2 linked regions of the Homo sapiens genome follow. The protein of the gene in region 2 interacts with the protein of the main gene of each other region in a biochemical or structural test. Each region holds a gene or a part of one and is shown on either strand. Other genes may lie near its edges.

Region 1 (3,500 bases), on a different chromosome or scaffold from region 2:
ATGAATTTAGAAATGGAACTCTCAGCACTGACTCCAAAAACTGAACTCTGCATCTTTCCGGCAGTGATGGACATGCCTCTTCGCAGCCACTTACTTCTGTCCTGAGGCGTGTTGTCCTGGCTAATGTCCCCCTGTGGTTCTAGGCACACGTCACCAAGTAGTGCTGAATCACTGTAACTTCCATGCCACTTCCAGGAGCCTTTTGGAAACACATTCAGAATGGCTACACTTCTCGGTTTCTCTATTAATAGGATTTTTCTCTTTCTTCTTTTTTTTTTAACGGCAGAGAAGGTGGAGAAGGAAAAGATGAAATGACACAAGGGTATCTCACTTCAGATGACCCAAAGGCCTTGGAGCCCCAGGGAAGGAGCAAGGGGTATGAGTCTCGTGGAAGCTCATCTCTTGGAGATGAACATGTCACCCCTGTGGTCTCCCGGGGACTTCAGCAGCCAGTACAAAGCTGAAACACAAAGCAACCAGGCTCAAGATGGATCACATCTATTCGATGCCAGCCTTGGCTTTAACCATCAATAATTTAGGAAAAAGAAGTAGCTCATAAGGAAGCCTCCCCAGGCTTTAAATTAGGAATGAGGTGACCACAACCTCCTCAAAGACTTGTTTTCTTAGAAAAATCCCAGACCATTCTAGTTAAAAGGAGCCTCAGAGATCAACTGGCCCAATCCCCTCACTGCCGAGGCTCCGAGAGGTCGAGGGAGCTGTTACCTGGTCAGGTAACACCCCAGGAAGGGCCAGAGCCGCTTGCCCTCAGCCCCTCCGCCCCAGTTGGCCTTCCAAGGAACCCTCACCCACTGCCAAGCTTACTTCTTCTTCAAATTAAGCCTGACCAGAGCTATTTATTCACTTGAAATATAAGCTCATGGAAAGTCTGATTTCTGAATCCAAGGCATGAAACTCATCCAGGATCACACAGCTCCAAACGGAGAATCCAGCCCCAAAGCGGAGGCCATCAGGCTTCTGACCACAGTTAGCTCATGGTGCCCGCCACCATCACTTACTCAATGCAGTTATTTTAAGTTCCAATGCAACCCATTTACAGCTCTCTCAGTGGAATGAAGTAACTCAAACACTTGGTTTTTGAGCTTGTTAACTTCCTAATTTTATGAAGCCTTAATATTTTAACTCTTTAGCAAAACCAACAGAGCAATAAAAGAAGGCAGCCGACCAGAGCAGGCAGAGACTCATAAACTGCTCAAAAGACCTCCAAGTTTCCAAGTTTCAGGTGACTAAAAGCTGGAGACTCACAAATGTTTCCACCCACCCTGCCCTAAGATGAAGCTCAGGTCCCTGGCACACTTGTTTTTTAACTGACAAAAGGTGTATTTGAATTGCCAATAGTGAAAATGACTCTCGAGCAAACTGCCCACTTTAACAATGGAAAAATACAACCCCAGGGAAGCAGTGATTGTATTTTCCCCCATTGTATTGAATATAAGTTACCTGTGGGCAGTGACTTTGTTTTATTCAACCCTGTCTCCCCAGAGCTCAGTACAGGGTCAGCACTCAGCTAGCAATGATTGCTTGTTTGAGGTTCCCACGAAAGAGTCACCTAAATAAAGTACATTTTGGCACGGGTGCAGTGGCTCACTCCTGTAATCCCAGCACTTTGGGAGGCCAAAGCGGGCGGATCACAAGGTCAGGAGATGGAGACCATCCTGGCTAACACGGTGAAACCCCGTCTCTACCAAAAAATACAAAAAAATTAGCTGGGCGTGGTGGCGGGTGCCTGTAGTCCCAGCTACTCTGGAGGCTAAGGCAGGAGAATGGCATGAACCCGGGAGGTGGAGCTTGCAGTGAGCCGAGATCGCGCCACTGCACTCCAGCGTAGGCGACAGAACGAGACACTGTCTCAAAAAAAAAAGTAAATTTTACAAACATTCCAGGGCTCCAAGAAGTAAAGCAACCATCTAAGCCCTTGGTTCTTCACCAGGTATGTACATACAGCCTCTGCCTTTAGAGGCTCTGGGGTGAGACCAGGAGCAGGCGATCCTAAAAACCTCCAGGGGTGGAGTTTCTGGGCACCCCTGCAGCTTGCAGACCTCCAAGCTTGTCTGGGCTGCTGCATGGAGTAGGGTGGGCTTTCCTGGAGGATGTACTAGCAGGAGAAATGGATGAGGCTTCTGCTGTTTGGGAAGTCTGTTTCAGGTCTCGTTCCTGGCTTCTTGTCCATGTTTTAGCAGAGGTCCGGAATCCCGGCTGGTCTTTTGGGACATGGGGGAATCTGGAAGGGCTTTCTCTCTTCAAGAGCAGTTTGTCTGGATCTCTGGCTTGGAAACAGCCTTCCTACAGTCCCTCGGCTCTTTTTGCTTTTCTTTAGTGAGGGCTGCACTGACGGCAACTGGAGGCAACCTTGTCTTCAGGCTCCTGAGCCTGCAGAGTGAAGGCTGTGATCTGTCCTGTTCCATCTCTAAGCCACAGCCATCTGGAGCCCTGTTTATTTCAGCTATTAGCTGGGGCTTAGCTGGGGTTGGTTTAAAATCTCTGTTGCTCTGTCAACAGCACAGCATGGTGGTTATGAACGAGGCTCTCCATCCAGTTGTGTGGGACCACCAGTCCTGAGCAAGGTACTTCTCTGTGACTTAGCTGCCCAGCTGTAACCCAGGGAAGACTACAGCACTCACTCATAGGACTGTCCGGAGGATCAAATGAATTAGTATGCACCCGGCATAGAATAAGCACAACATATATGTTAGCCCTCATTATTAGTACCCTATTAGTATTTCAATTCCTTTCTTTTTTGTAATCATCTGACCAGTACAGCTGGAGATGACAGATCTTTGTTCTCTAGCTGAATTGTATACTTTCCCATCCAAACCCTGCCAGTGCATTGACTTCTGAAATAGATGATTTGCCTTCATTTCCAGAGCGGTGAGCAGAGATGTTCTCTGAGGTCTATTCAATAAACAGCTTACAGATGAAAGTGCTTTCCTTTGAATGGTGACATGTTCCTCTATCCAAAGATCTACTGTGACCCAAAGTGCTAGTCACCTCCCTGGGGACCCCTGATCTGATGACATTTCTACCTCTCATCCCCTGGCATGCTCTGCCCCAGACAAAGCCACCTTATAATATTTGAAATCGCAGCACCCGCTCCTGCCTCGAGAGCTCTGTCTCCAGATCCGTGTATGACTTGCTCCAACTCCAGGCCTCTAGTCAAGTGGCACCCCTAGAAAAGGCTCATGTCCATGGCAGCTAAAGTGACTCTCCCGCCAATCTTCCAGCCAGAGCAGGCAGCCAATTCACCTCATTTAACAGTGACGTCAAGTGACCTGCCCGTGGGCACCAGCTGTTGAGTCCTGGAGCCTGGCTTGGACTGAATGAAGTCTGCTGGCTCCCAGGCGCCTGTCCTCGGAAACACCTCCGAAAAGTCAAGGGTGGAGTGTGAGATCCAGAGAGGGGGCGCAGCAAAGCAGTGCCTTCCACTAAGGAAAAACAGAATGGCTGTGTATCGCAAGCACCTCCCGTTTGTCTTCATTCATTCA
Region 2 (3,500 bases):
CCAAGAAGACATTAGTACTTTTTCATAAATAACTTGTGTTTGATTGGAGACATAAAAAGACTGGAGCAAGCTGTGGCATCTCACAGTGATGGCTCAAGATAAATTATGTTTCTCCTTCCCCAAGACCCTTTGCTTGTTGTTGATGTTATCTCTTAACAACCCCTACAGAGACAGTGGGCTTTCTAAAGTCACTGTAGAGCCAGGTGCGGTGACTCACGCTTGTAATCTCAACACTTTGGGAGGCTGAGGCTGGTGGATCATCTGAGGTCAGGAGTTTGAGACCAGCCTGGCCAACACGGCAAAACCCCATCTCTACTAAAAATACAAAAATTAGCTGGGCATGGTGGTGGTGGGTGCCTGTAATCCCAGATACTCGGGGAGGTTGAGGCAGGAGAATCACTTTAACCCGGGAGGCAGAGGTTGCAGTGAGTCGAGATGGTGCCACAGCACTCCAGCCTGCGCGATGAGAGCGAAACTCTGTCTCAAAAAAAATAAAAATAAAAATAATTAAAGTCACTGTAGAACCTGTCATCTTATGCTAGAAATAAATATACGTGTCTGCTTTGCCACAGAGTCTTCTCTTTTGTTTTCTGCCCCTGCCTAGAGGATCTCAGGAGATATATGTATATGGAGAGAGGGTAAAGAGGTGGCTGTGAGCTACTTACATTAGTAATAACAAACAGATATGCTGCACCAAAGTCTAGAAGACCCAAATTCAGAGAAAAGTTCTTATCTTCTGTTCTACAGTGCACTGCAGGGTATCTGGAACAGGATGAATTTAGGTTAGAATAAATATCAAGGCTTGGAAAAGCATTCCCATCTCCAGGTGAAAGTGATCTCATCTCTCTACTGATGGTGAGGAAAGCAGTGAAGCCACTAATTATCTTTGAAGAGAAATGTTTCTTGGAGTAGGTTATTTTCATGCCAGGCTTCTGTCCCTGATTTGAGCTCTTTATTGCTTGTCAGGTATTTTCTAAAATATTCAACCTAAATAAAGAAGTTACAAATCATATTCTTTTGTTAACTTAAGTACCATGTGAATTTTCCTCATGCAAATCTTATGACTTAGTAGAACAGGCTATAACAGTGAACCTGAGAAGATAAGCTCTAAGTAATGAAGTGCCAGTGTAAGGTACCAAAGTACCTTCTTTAGTAGAAATGGAAACCAATAATAAACTTTGAGAAACTCACAGAGACGGACTGTGTTAACTATACAGAGATGGGCTGTGTTAACTATATAGTGTGGTCTTCACGGCAATCGTGATCTCAACATATCTGTGCAGAAAAAAAGTGAGACTGAGGGAAGGAAGCAAGAGTTGGAAAAGATCAGTAGTGCGTCTATACTCAAAATTAGACCACATGCACCTAAGTTCCCCACCTATATACAAAGATAGCACTTAAAAAACAATTATTGACAAAAGTAAAATGTCCACAGGGGCAATGCACTTACTCTCCTCTTTGCACAGTTCTATAAGCAGACACACCATAGTCTTCACCAACATTGAGAGAGGTATCTGTACTCAGGGAGATGTTGACATCTTTATGCAAAGTGTTAACAAACCTGAGGGTAGAGATATTATTTACATATCAAACAAACAGGAACACCTGATAAAAGAGGTTAGGGGCCTTTTATGTTTTGGGTATAACTATATCCCCAGTGCCCAGGTGCCTAGGATAGTGGCTGGCACATAAAAGGTACCTAATGTATATTGTTAACTAGACGAATGAACCCACACGTAAAAAGTAATCCATAGTCTTAGCTGTCCCTAAGTTTCTTTTTCTTGAACTTTTATCTGCCACATCCTCACCAGACCTCTAGCTAGACGGACACTATCATGATCATTCATGGAAATCTGAGTTTCCTCACTAATCCAGCTTAGGTGCATCTAATTTATTTCCCTTATAATGGTGGAATCTATCAACTGAGACTTTACTAAGAAAAATAAGATAATTATGCATATATAAAGATATGATAGTATTTACATAAAACTGATATCTTATCCTCTTATAAATGAAGTCCAATGTGACCTATGCAAAACTCAGACTCCCAGCCCAGAGTAGGTTATTATAATTGTTTTGGAGTCTGCAGAAACTTTGGACCCTTCCAAGACCATCTTTCTATTTTTCTGAACCTGGCACCTAGATTGTCCTCTCAGGATGGGTTTTGGTACATTTCTGTTTTGATAGCTTTTGATTTGGTCTCTGGCCCCAGGAATAAGAAGGACATTTCCCTTTAGAGTCCTGAATGTTGATTCCTAGACTTTAGATCATTCTACACTGACCTAGAAAATGCCCCTTCTGGGGGCCCATGGCTCTCTGACCTCACATTGTCTTATTTTGAGCTGTTTACTTTTTTTGAAGCATATTCAAAAGCAAGTTATTATGACTGTCCCAACCTTCAGTGAAATCCAGACTTTTCACTAAAAGTTCTCCACTAAAATGCTATTCTCAACAGCAACCACTTGACCTTGGTGGCCATAGACCTGTGTATCTGTCCATTTCATATCTAATACCAGCCACAGAGAACACATGTCCTCTTGGGTACTCCATCTCTGTAACTGTCCCTCACCATTTGACAAGACCCTTCAGCCTTATCTGGATTCAAAACTAAGTCTTTTGACTCCAAATGTGTGCTATACCATGATGCCTCTACAGGCTTATAATAAAAACTATACTTTAAAAGATATATATTCAACTATCAAAAATGAAGGGAGGATTATTTTCTCACTTCCAAATTTCTCTCTGGCGATCACAGAGAGAAAAGTACTCAGTTATTTTCCTGAGAGCAAGATAAATAGATAAAATTCAGCAGAAAGGATTTATGCCCCAGAGTACAGGGGGCATACACAGATAGAGTCATCTTCGAATCCCACATGAGAAAAGAAGCCTATCTGCCTCTCACTGTCCTAGAAAATGCCTTTTGACACCAGTGCCCCTGGCATTCTACGAGAGGGAATTCCTGTTCAGAACAAGTAGAATGCAGCCCCAAAGATTAGAAGAGATCCAAGATTCAAGAAAACAGAGTGGCCTGGAATCTCATTGACATTCAAACCTCACGGTTGTCATCCCATTGGTTGTTCTGCTTTCTGTATCCTTTACCTACAACAGAGGAAAGTAAAAATCAGTAACAGCTGATGAAATAAGACCTATACTCAGAAAATTTGATCATCAGGCAGATCCTTGGTAAGATGTTGATGAGACAGTCATATTACTTTGAGATGACAACTGAAAACACAGGCAATTCCTCAAATTACCATCATGCTGGAGATACTGTTCCCATCTTCACGAATGACAAGACTGTACCAGTTCTTCTCCTGCACAGAATGCTCAGTGTAGAGAGACAAATTGTGATATTTCAGGTGGAAGTGAAAATCCTGGCTTTTTGTTTTCAGGTGCAGTTTGGAATAGTGTGGTGTTTTCTGTAAAATGAAGAATATAAAATGAAGGTCACGTACACCTTCTACTGCATATTGGACATCACGATGTAGCATCTCAGGGTA

The links. Proteins that work in one complex are often made in the same cells at the same time.
Region 1: the proteins of SLC15A2 (region 2) and HTRA1 interact in a test that uses a peptide from one of them, tested with the Homo sapiens proteins (one large-scale study listed by IntAct).

What each region holds. Positions count from the first base shown.
Region 1 is NC_000010.11:122,464,553-122,468,052, reverse strand, and holds part of HTRA1 (serine protease HTRA1 precursor), read right to left. Parts: intron 1-3,500. UniProt on the Homo sapiens protein: Serine protease with a variety of targets, including extracellular matrix proteins such as fibronectin. HTRA1-generated fibronectin fragments further induce synovial cells to up-regulate MMP1 and MMP3 production.
Region 2 is NC_000003.12:121,928,901-121,932,400, reverse strand, and holds part of SLC15A2 (solute carrier family 15 member 2), read right to left. Parts: intron 3,420-3,500; coding exon 3,255-3,419; intron 3,100-3,254; coding exon 3,053-3,099; intron 1,562-3,052; coding exon 1,451-1,561; intron 1,276-1,450; coding exon of another isoform or gene 1,230-1,275; exon of another isoform or gene 769-1,229; intron 763-768; coding exon 666-762; intron 1-665. UniProt on the Homo sapiens protein: Proton-coupled amino-acid transporter that transports oligopeptides of 2 to 4 amino acids with a preference for dipeptides. Transports neutral and anionic dipeptides with a proton to peptide stoichiometry of 2:1 or 3:1.